Linked DNA regions of Homo sapiens: region 2 is linked to region 1. Evidence: fine-mapped expression QTL. A gene starts in region 1. The other region holds a variant in brackets. All regions are shown on one strand. Distances are between the middles of the regions. Region 1 holds the start of PIGK (phosphatidylinositol glycan anchor biosynthesis class K). Region 2 overlaps PIGK (phosphatidylinositol glycan anchor biosynthesis class K).

What was found. PIP is the estimated chance that this variant, and not a neighbour inherited with it, causes the effect.
Region 2: its variant is the best candidate, but not a certain one, in a credible set for the expression of PIGK in whole blood (TOPMed, PIP 0.57).

The regions. Positions count from the first base shown.
Region 1 is chr1:77,216,317-77,221,316 of GRCh38, forward strand. PIGK (phosphatidylinositol glycan anchor biosynthesis class K) reads right to left here and starts at 3,114. Exons shown (of 11, transcript NM_005482.3): 1 at 2,994-3,114. The coding sequence starts at 3,086. It overlaps LOC105378808 (a long non-coding RNA gene), which reads left to right and starts at 3,204. Exons shown (of 3, transcript XR_001738109.2): 1 at 3,204-3,337; 2 at 4,472-4,677. RefSeq lists an enhancer at 2,798-2,907.
Region 2 is chr1:77,085,484-77,091,020 of GRCh38, forward strand. It overlaps PIGK (phosphatidylinositol glycan anchor biosynthesis class K), which reads right to left. Exons shown (of 11, transcript NM_005482.3): 11 at 3,506-5,537. Among named protein-coding and RNA genes, the nearest start is that of MIR7156, 28 kb to the left of the region's middle. The variant G/A (reference allele first, on the strand shown) is at 2,293.

The DNA of each region.
Region 1 (5,000 bases):
ATTTGTGAAATATCATTAACAGATTTTAGAGTGTACATGTAACCCTCAAGAATATCAATTTTCATTAGAATATCATTTGCTGTAGTAATACAAGTTAATTCTTACGTTAACTACCAATAGAGATGGAAAAAACTGATCTCTGAAATTACTATGGCTAGGATAAAATACCCTTAATTTAGCAAGGCAATAACATAGTATTTCACATTAAATGAAACTATAATGGGTTGTCTATTGTTAAGCATTGTTTCTGATAAATTGACATGATAAATATAGAATAATAACCTGAACAAAAAGTGTGTGTGTGGCATGTGTGTGTGGGGGGGTGTGTGTGTGTGTATTTTTCCCCCTCCAAACTCAACAGCTGCCTGGATGTTAAAGAAAGCAATGTGCTACAGTGGTTAAGCATTGATTTGGGAATTCAAAGACCTAAGCTAAAATTTAGGTCCTATCTCGCAACTGGCTGTGAAATTGCGGTAAGTCATTTAGCTCTTTAGACTTGACTATCCTCATGTCTCTAATGTGCCTTCCACCTCCAAAGTTCTTACTTCTTTCAGACCTTAGTGAAAAAATTTAGATGGCAAAACTTTTTTGTGGTTGTCTAGACAATACAGTCATTATAAAGTTATTCATTCTACATACAGTAAATGCAGCACCTATTATGTGCCAGATACCATTAATATATAGTGATACAAAAATCACTAAAAAGCATGCTGCTTTCTCTCAAGAATCCAGAGTTCAATAAAGAGGAGCATGCAAACACATTACACTATAATTATTACATTCATTAATTCATCACACTCATTGGGCAACATGCCAGTCACTGCCCTGAGTGCTCCAAATACAATGCTGGGCAAAAATAGCCATAGTACTGCCTTCAAATAGGTTACTATCTAATTGGATAGATATACATTTAACAGATAAGGAAAGACACACAATATAATAAGAGTACAACAGAGGGACCTGACCTGGTCAGGAAAGTTTTCCTAAAGAAGTGACTGTTGGGTTAAAATCCAAAAGATGAAGAAAAGAGGAAATACAATTCCAGACAGAGGGGAGACAGCTCTAATGTGAGAAAAAGCTTAAAGGTTTTGAGAAACTGAAAGAAAGTTAGCCTAACTAGAAGTTTGAAAGAGAAAGAAAAAATTTGAAGTGTAGTCAGGGCCCAAAAAATATGCAGGGTTTTTGTTTGTGGGTCATGGTGGAGAGTTTAGAGCAACATTAAGGTGATCTTTTGAGCAACATCAAGGTCCCTGGGTGACATGATTGGAACTGCATTTTTAAAAGTTACTCTGGCTTCAATTTGGAGAACAGATTGAAAGGAAAAAACAACGACTCAAGGCAAAACATTTAGGAAACTGTTGCTCCTATCTCTAAGTGAGATATGATGGAATAACAGTACAAACCATACACGGGTTATAGTAAATGAGTGCTGTATCAAGTGTACAAATTACAAGAGTAAAGGCAAAGGTAAGAGATAGGGAAACGTTCTACAGAGGTTATGCCTTTACTGTATCTTAGCACATGAACAGAGGAAACACAATGTATAAAATATTGTAATGTGAAAAAGCACAGCAATTATGTAACTACAAAAAACAGTAATAGTATCCAAGATGAAGCAGTCAAAGTTAGAATAAAGGAGGGAAACAGAACTTCTATTTACTCATATTTATGTTCTCTAAAAATTATGCTATATAAACATCAAATATATAAATTAACAGTAATTCATAAATATATATGAAGTTCATGCTCAATATCTTTTTTTAACTGATAGGGTGTGTATTCAAAAAGTTTGGAGTCCACTGGTCTAAGCTCAAGGTGCCCAGGTGGTGGGGAGAAGAGGTTCCAATATGGAACACTGGAAAAGTAGGCAAGCACCAGGTCATAACGTTTAGACTTTATTCTGTATGCAATTAATAAATATTTAAAAGATTTCATCAGAAGAATAACCTGATCAGGCTTACATTTCGTGTAGACGAATCTAGCACCAAACTCAGGGAGTATGGAGGCCTATGGAAAACAAGATAAAGTAATCGCAAGAGTCTAGACAAGAAGTGATCACAGCCTGAATTAAGTCAGTGGAACTGGAGAGGTGAGGGCAATTTTAAGAACTCAGATCACAAAATTTAGTGATAATTAGAATATGGGATAAAGAGATTAAGACTCTCAGGTTTCTAGCTTAGGAGCAGCACATCTGGTTGAGAAATGGAGGAGAAAAGGGGTGCTTAGTTTTTCAGTGTCTTTTTAAGAGGAGGTAGGATAAGCAGAAGATAAAACTTTGCACACGGATTTTCAAATGTCTCCTGACTATCCCGGATTCTTAGTCAGCTGGATATGCAGGCCTGAAAAAGATACCAGACATCTAGATTGTAGACCGGGACTGAGGAATCATCAGAGTATGGTGAATAGTAAAAGCATTATAGAGCACCAGAACATCCTGTGTCCACGTTTAAAAATGGGAAGCTGGAGGAGCCCAGGATAAAACTAAGCACCCCTTTTCTCTTCCATTTCTTAACCCAGACGTGTTGCCCCTAAGCCAGAAACTTGAGAGTTTTAATAAACACTTATATTTATCCCATGTTCTAATTATCACTAAATTCTATTATCTGGATTCTTAAAATTGCCCTCATCTCTCCAGTTCCGTCTGACTCCTATCAAAACAGAGGGCTGCAGTTGAGTAGTAGGAAAGCAGTTGCTGCACACTGACATTTCACGAGCCTCTTGCTCGTATTTCACCTAAGAACTGCACACATGTAGGAGCAAAGGATCAGGTCCTCCTCTGTCTCCGAGGGTTTGATTATTTCAATTCATCGTTTTAAAACGCTGAAACAGACCAACAGTGTCCTAACCCGTGCCCAGTGATACCCTCCTCAAACCCAGCCTGGGTCAGGGGCTGATTGACTCCAGGAGGCGTCCCTCAGCTACTGTGTATCGGACATCTGCTGGAGGGCTCACAGCCGGCCTCCCGGCTGTGGTCAAATGAGCCTGACTCCTACCTCGATATGACTAGCGGCCACGCTGCCGAAGGACAAGAGCAACACAGTTGCCAAGACAGTCGCAGCCCGGCTGAGGCTGTCGGTGACGGCCATGTTTACCGGCTTCAGACTTCCCGCACCTGAAGGGGCGGAGGCAGTGCCGTAAAGTAGCGCTGCGGGTTTTTGCGACACCATCCGCGCCTCTTCGAGGTGGCCCTCTGGTCCGGCTTTAGAACTCTGCGGTTTTGTGGAGCTCGAGAGTCCGGGACAAGGTAGACGCAGGATATTGACCTTTTTATTTTTAACTGCATTTTCAGTTTGGAGGTTGTAAAATAGGTATAACATTTAAGAAAAAAAATTGAAAGGTGAGTGGAGGGAAAACCCGTAACTCCTTAAACTTTAAAAACTTATTTCTCTGTTCCCTTATTTATTTTATTTATTTATTTATTTATTTATTTATTTATTTTGCCGAGTGCTGCCAATTCTTTGAAAATATGAAGCTGGATGTGGTGGGAAGAACAAGCGTTTTGGCACAAAAAGATGATTAATTGGATAAACTATAAATGGAAAATGTGGGTGGGCGCTGCAATTTAGAGGCTTGGGGTCTACTACCTGGTGAAAGGATTAACATGGGAAGCTAGTTACGTTTTTGTTTCTTGAGTATCTTCTGTAATTATGGAACTAAAGCCTATCTGGAAGAGACACAGCTGGTGTATATGTATGGTCCACCATTCTCTTTATTATGTGAGTTCAGTTTTAATTTATGCATTTCATCTAGTATGACATAAACGTTTCCACGCTGCTTCCTCACAATTTTAACATTTAATGGTGAGATAAAATTCCATCCATTATTGATGCCTCAGCCAAAGTAATTGTCCCTCTGCTGCACAATGCAAAGTTTTTAAGTTTTACTATGAAAATAATATTGTAAAGAGTATCTTTTGTGTGTTTGGCTTTTTAAATCTGTTGAATTATTTTGTTTGTATAATTTTCCTGAACTAGGAATTTGGGGTCAAAATATTCCAAAACATTTTAATAACTATAAATGATGTTGCTTTCCAAAATGAACAAGCTTACAGCACTATCAGAATACACAACACCAAACCATACCATTTTTTTTCCTTTAAATTCTTTGGTATGAAATGTTACCCCTAGGTAACTATACTTATAATTCTTTGGTTACTATCAAGATCTGATGTCTTTCTTGTGTTTCTAAACTATCTCTGTGTCCTCTGATGTAAATTCTTTGTTTATATATTTATGTTTTGCATATGAATTTGAATAATATATTTATAAATAAGTAACATTAGCCTTTGCCATATTTTATGCTATTGCTTTTCCCATTCTCTTGTCTCTCTTTTCCTTTTATTTGTTTCTTTTGCTATTGCACTTTGTGAGAGGTTTCATGCTATTTAGTCAAATTTAGGTTTTCCGTTACGTGAATCCTAGAAAGTAAATACACTGCCAGAATATCTTCCATGTATTCATTAATTCAACAGATATCTATTGGATGCTGATGATTATGAAACAAAGTAGCAAAGATAAGAAGCCATTTGCTCATTCTGCTCCTTTGCCAGCAATATTTCACAAAGCCCCTGACTCATTGACTGTGAGCAGCCTTGTGGAAGAATGCCTTGAAGACCATAAGCAGGATAGGGAATAGGTTTGCACATCTCTTGCCTGAATCACTGAATTTTTACAAAAGGTAAGTTTGGTGATCCTAGCCCTTGCCTCTTCCTGTACATAAGATAATGTCTGACAAGATTAATGATTATGCCTCAAATTCATGACCAGATGTAACTTCATACCCACACTTTGATGAGACTTTACTTGTATTAACCCATTTTCATACTGCTATGAAGAAATACCCAAGACTGCATAATTTCTAAAGAAAAAGGCTTAGTGGACTCACAGTTCCACATGGCTGGGGAAGCCTCACAATCATGGTAGAAGATGAAGAAGGAGCAAAGGCACATCTTACATGGCAGCAGGTGAGAGAGCATGTGCAGAGGAACTACCCTTTATAAA
Region 2 (5,537 bases), 130 kb before region 1:
AGTGTGTAGCAGCAACTCAATATCCCTTTGATAATTGAGATCAATCACTCCAACCAGTGAAGCAACTCCCTATTTTTGGCCTGTTGGTTTAGTGACATAAACAGCCTCAAATGACCAGGTGGCAATGTTCTCTTCAAATTCAGTGAAATTGTTGTATCTCATGATGAAAGCATTCTCCCTCTTGGGGGCAAAGACCTCCAAATTAGCAAAGTTCAAAGTTTCCATTGGATTTGGCAGTTCCATCACTGATAGCAGTAAAGGAAATCATTTCAGGGGAGTAGTGGGAACAAAAGCCAGATTACAAGGGGGTTTACAATGAAGAGAAGGCAAGGCAGGGAAGCCAGTAAGTGAATGCAGCCCACTCTTTCGAAAGAAAAGCTATGAAATTAAGTAGAGGAGAGCTCTGTAAAGCACTCAGAAGAGGACACAGGATTTTGAGAGGAATTTTTAAAATGAGGAAAACTTACACATCTTATAAAATTCAAGGGGAAGCTCTTCTATGTAAAAAGAAATTGAAGGAAGACATGAGTAAACAAGCTCCCAAATGGGATGGGATCAATAACTCAAAGCAGAGGCATCTCTGCCTCAGTATCTGAGCCCAAAGAAGTGGGGTAGGGGTGTGATGGGAGAAAATAAAGGCAAATTTGTAGAAGGTGGAGCAGGAAGTTGAGCTGGTTACCTTCTCCCAGTTTAATTTTCAGATTACAAAGCAAAGCCTTTTGATGAAAGAACTAAGTTGGTAGAGCAGGAAGACTGAAGAAAATGCACAATTTTGAAAAGAACAATAGTGGAAAATAGAGAGGGGCAAGAGATAGAGAAATCTAATCTGGTTGTCTATAAATCATGACTCAAATTTTACTTCCTCCTTGATGTATGCTCTGCCTCTTCAACTGATAGTAAATAAAAGATTAATAATATATCTATATAGCAATTAAAAACAGAAGTTTCTCTTTAAGTGCCTGTCCTATAGCTCTTACATAGCACTCGTCATTTTCTGCTATGTAGTTTTTTTCCTTTCTATAATCCACTGGTAACTCTTTAATTAATTAGATTTTTGTATCCCTCATAAGCATCTACTAGAGTGTGTAACTCATTAACACAGTGTTTCAATAACTAATTGTTGTACAACAAACCACTCTATACTAATGGAGTAAAATAACAATCTTTTGTAATTATTCTCTCTCATGGTTCTGGGGATAACTAAGTGGTTCTCACTTGGGGGTCTCTCCTGTGGTTGCAGTCAGGGAACATCTGGAGGCTCCTTCCTGCACATCTCTGGAGTGTGATGTTGGCTCCTGGCTGGGACCTCAGCCGGGAGGCTGCCCTCCACAATACACATATGTGACTTCTCCATGCGGCTTGGGCTTCCTCAGGGGATGGTGGCTGGGTTCCGAGAGCAAGTGTCCTAGAAAAGAGCTGGGCAGGTGTTATAATCCTTTTTATGATCTCTGAAGTCATGCAGTAGTATTCGGTAACACTCTATTTATTAGAATTAAGTCACTAAGGCCAGCCCATATTCAAGGGGCAGGGAGTTTAGACTCCATGTCTTGATGAGAGGAGTGTCAAGGGATTTGAAGATACTACACATATAAATGCTAATTAGCTGCTTGTTTTAAGCATTTAGTGTATTTTGAAAAAGCCTCAGAAAGAAAGAGAATGAGAGTGGTACACAGTCTTACAAGGTCTGAATAGAAGTCAGGAATAATGCTAAAGAGTCAATTAACCATAAAAGATGCTACCCATGGCTGCTTATTTCGCAAGTGTTTGTGATCTTCTTTTACAATCTCTTTTTAGGAGATAAAATTGAGCTATTTTGTCTAGAAAGGTGTAGTAGGTCAGTGCTTCTCCTACTTTATGGGCACACAAACTCCTCGGGATATTGTTAAAATGCAGATTCTGATTCAGTAGGTCTGAGGTGGGCATCACATTCTGCATTTCTAGGAAGCTACAGGGGGGATACTGCAGCTCCATGAGCCACCCATTGAACAGCAAGTTAGCAGAAAGTAATAAGGGTAACTGCCTGGCTCCTGTGATCCCATCCTTCTCTGGGAGGAGTGCTAATGGGGTATGCCACCAGAGGTCCTTATGGGCTTACAAGACCTTAGCCCTCTGGCCTGTGAACCTGTGATGCCAATAAGGTTAATCTATTCTTCCATAAGACTTGTAGAACTGGAATTAAAGGAAGACAGTAATTTACCTCTCTCTTGTGGTAGAAGCATGGGATATGAGGTTCTATCCATCATGTGAGAAAGTCAGTTTCCAGGAGGAATAAAGGGAACACAGAGAGAGAGA[G/A]TGAGTCCAGGTGATACTCCAGTGCCTGATGAGGCTCAGACCTGACCCCACTTCTGAAAGATTATACAAAATATCCTAATATTCTTCTGGCAAATTCCCCTCTTGGCCTACATTTGTTCTACTTTGGTTGTTATCATTTGAAACTAAAAAAGCTCTAACAAAGGGTAGGGAAAGTAGGGGATATGTTCTCTTGGAAATGTAATGCTCACTGTTTTGCAGTACTAGATTATTATCCAGACATCTGCAACCTGAGGGTGAGGAAAGACTGTCCCTTAAATCATGTTAAAGGTATGTTCCCAACAGAGTGGACTGAATATGAAAAAAGAAGACAGTGGAACACTAAGGCTGAGGGAAGATGAGAAAAGCCTCAATCTACCTAAAATAGGAGAAAAATCTAGAAAAGGGAGGCAAGAGAGTCTATGGATTAAAATCGTTGGATAGTATCGAAAGAAACTGTTACCCAAAATTTATGCCTGCTGAAAACAGATGGGAAAAGGACAGTCTAGGAATAGCAAAGCTAATGTTCTCTAAAGAGTGACAAGACCCTGGGCCTGAGTGGAAGTTAAAAGCAAGATAGTCCTGCCCAGCAAAGAACAAAACATTGACTTTTCCTATATGTCAGACATTGTGTGATTTGCTTTACATTTTTTTTTTTTTTTTTTTTTTGAGACGGAGTCTCGCTCTGTCGCCCAGGCTGGAGTGCAGTGGCGCAATCTCGGCTCACTGCAGGCTCCGCCCCCCGGAGGTTCACGCCATTCTCCTGCCTCAGCCTCCCGAGTAGCTGGGACTACAGGCACCCGCCACCTCGCCCGGCTAATTTTTTGTATTTTCAGTAGAGATGGGGTTTCACCGTGTTAGCCAGGATGGTCTCAATCTCCTGAACTCATGATCCACCCGCCTCTGCCTCCCAAAGTGCTGGGATTACAGGTATGAGCCACCATGCCCAGCCAATTTGCTTTACATTTATGACCTTATTAAATGACCCCCCCTAAGAAAGTTTCGCTCATGTCCGTCCCTGAAACTCTAGCACAGTCAAAGCTGGCACTACCATAGTCAAAAGAGAGAAAACTGAACGTGGGTCGTATCATGTGATTCCCACCTGGCAGACCCTATGACTGGGTATACCTCAGCAGGCAAATCTCAGAGTCCTCTGAAGTCTCTGAGACTGCAAACTGTGCAGGTGACACAAGAATGACACTGCCACCTTTCCATGTTTGGAGTAAATAAATTTTTAATAACCAGTTTCTTGGTTACAACTTCATCTATATAAATCCCCTTATTCTAGGATCTACACAGTTAAACCTAATATTTCACAGCACATTTCCAAAACAGTACAGTTTTTACACTAAGAAAAAAAAATAAAAATAAAAGCCTGGTTACCACCAAGGTGTATTGTCCATGAATTGAAAGGCTTTCCTATTTAAGTAGCAGGTACATGTGTAAATAGGGCAGGCAGCAACAGAACAGCAATATTGGAGAACTCTTTCTTTGTAGTAAATGCCCTTGAGTATGAGATGTGACACTGAAGCAATAAGGCCAATTCTTTAAAGCAAAAATGGATACTGATCTCATTGTTTTATAGCCATATCTTGTGGTATGTTTATAACGTATTTCTTTCACATGTTAAAACAGTATCTACTAAAGATGGGCTTAATTTTGGTAAAGTCAACTGAAAAAAGTTATATGTTAATGCAACATTTGTTGTAAAGATTCCAGAAACACAGGAGTCAAAATTTCAAATTATGATTCCCACAGTAACTGTAACTCTGGTATACAACATACATAATGGAAGAAATGTTATCAATATATACCATAGTAGAAAATACTCAGTAAGCAGAAACAAGCTGAGTTATGCTTCTTGTGGGAATCATCATTTTCAACTAGCTGGGAATATATAAAAATCAAAACCATAAATGCATGGATTATTTTTTGCATTTAATTCTAATATTTCTTGATCCAATTTAATCAGCTTTGTATCCAAACTACATTTTCCTTTCATAAACTGCAAATGAATGTCTTTCGTAATTTTAAAATCCACATTATTTGATTTCTTTTTCTCACACAGGCTGCCTTTGCAGGATGGCATCATTATACCCTGTCCCTCCCTGAAATGTCAGGACACATCTGCAGGGATTCATTTATCTACATTCCTTTTCTCTCTGAAGGACACCATGGGGGAGGAGAAAAAGAACAGCAAAGAGAACAAGAATCACATTGAGTAGCTTAGAAAGCTACATAAGTGCACTGTGACCATTAACTTCCCCTTTGGTATCCTCCTAAGCCGACATAAGAACAATAATGCCACCATATATTTACAATTTCAGAAGTGTTTAGTCAAAATACTATCTCATCTGATTCTCACCACAACACTGTGAGAAAGGCAAAAACAAAACACCTTTCTGTTGTTCAGCTTTTGTGACTCAAGTAGAATATATTTAAGGATTTGTTTTTATGATACTGTTTAAAGTGTAGGCCATTTAATTGCACTGACAATATTTCCTAAACGTACTCATCTACCACATGCAGAGGATTTAGTTATTATGAAGGCAGAGTATGCTCTATGTAAAAAGATTATGGTTATAAGTGAAACATTTAACATATTTTAAGCTTTTGGCTTTAACTATATTCTGAAGATTCAATAATGAAACAGAGGAACAACTGCCCTTTGAAATTCTGCTGAGGCAAAATTTATCCTGAATATTTTATCCAGTATTACTTTTCCCAGTTTGGTTTTAACTAAGAAGGGCACCTTCTACAACCTCTGAAGACGAATCCTTTTACTTTCTAGCAGTCTTTACAGGGTATGTTTCATTATATTCAAACTAAATTACTTTGGCTCAAGAACAATCATAATTCCTTTACCACCCTAAATAGCTCCGCCTCACCGTGGTGTCCACGACCTTGTATGAGTGTCTGGAGGGCAACATGGTCAATCTTTTTGTGTCTCAGTGCTACTATAATCAGTCTATTCAATTGCAAGTTTATTTTCCCTTCTTTTCATGTACAGAAAGATCCTTCACATAATCAGACAAAATTTTTCTTCCTCATTTATATAACACATCAATAAAAAGATCAATTAAAATAAAGATTCAGAGCTGGCAAAAAGCCTCAATATCATTTGTTCTAACTAGGGAGATAACACAGTCAATCCTTTGCCTTTTGAAAAGTATGACAATCTTGCATGCAATTAAAAGGTAATATTATAAGTGCAAAAGGAAAAACAAATCTTAAGGAATATTAATTTT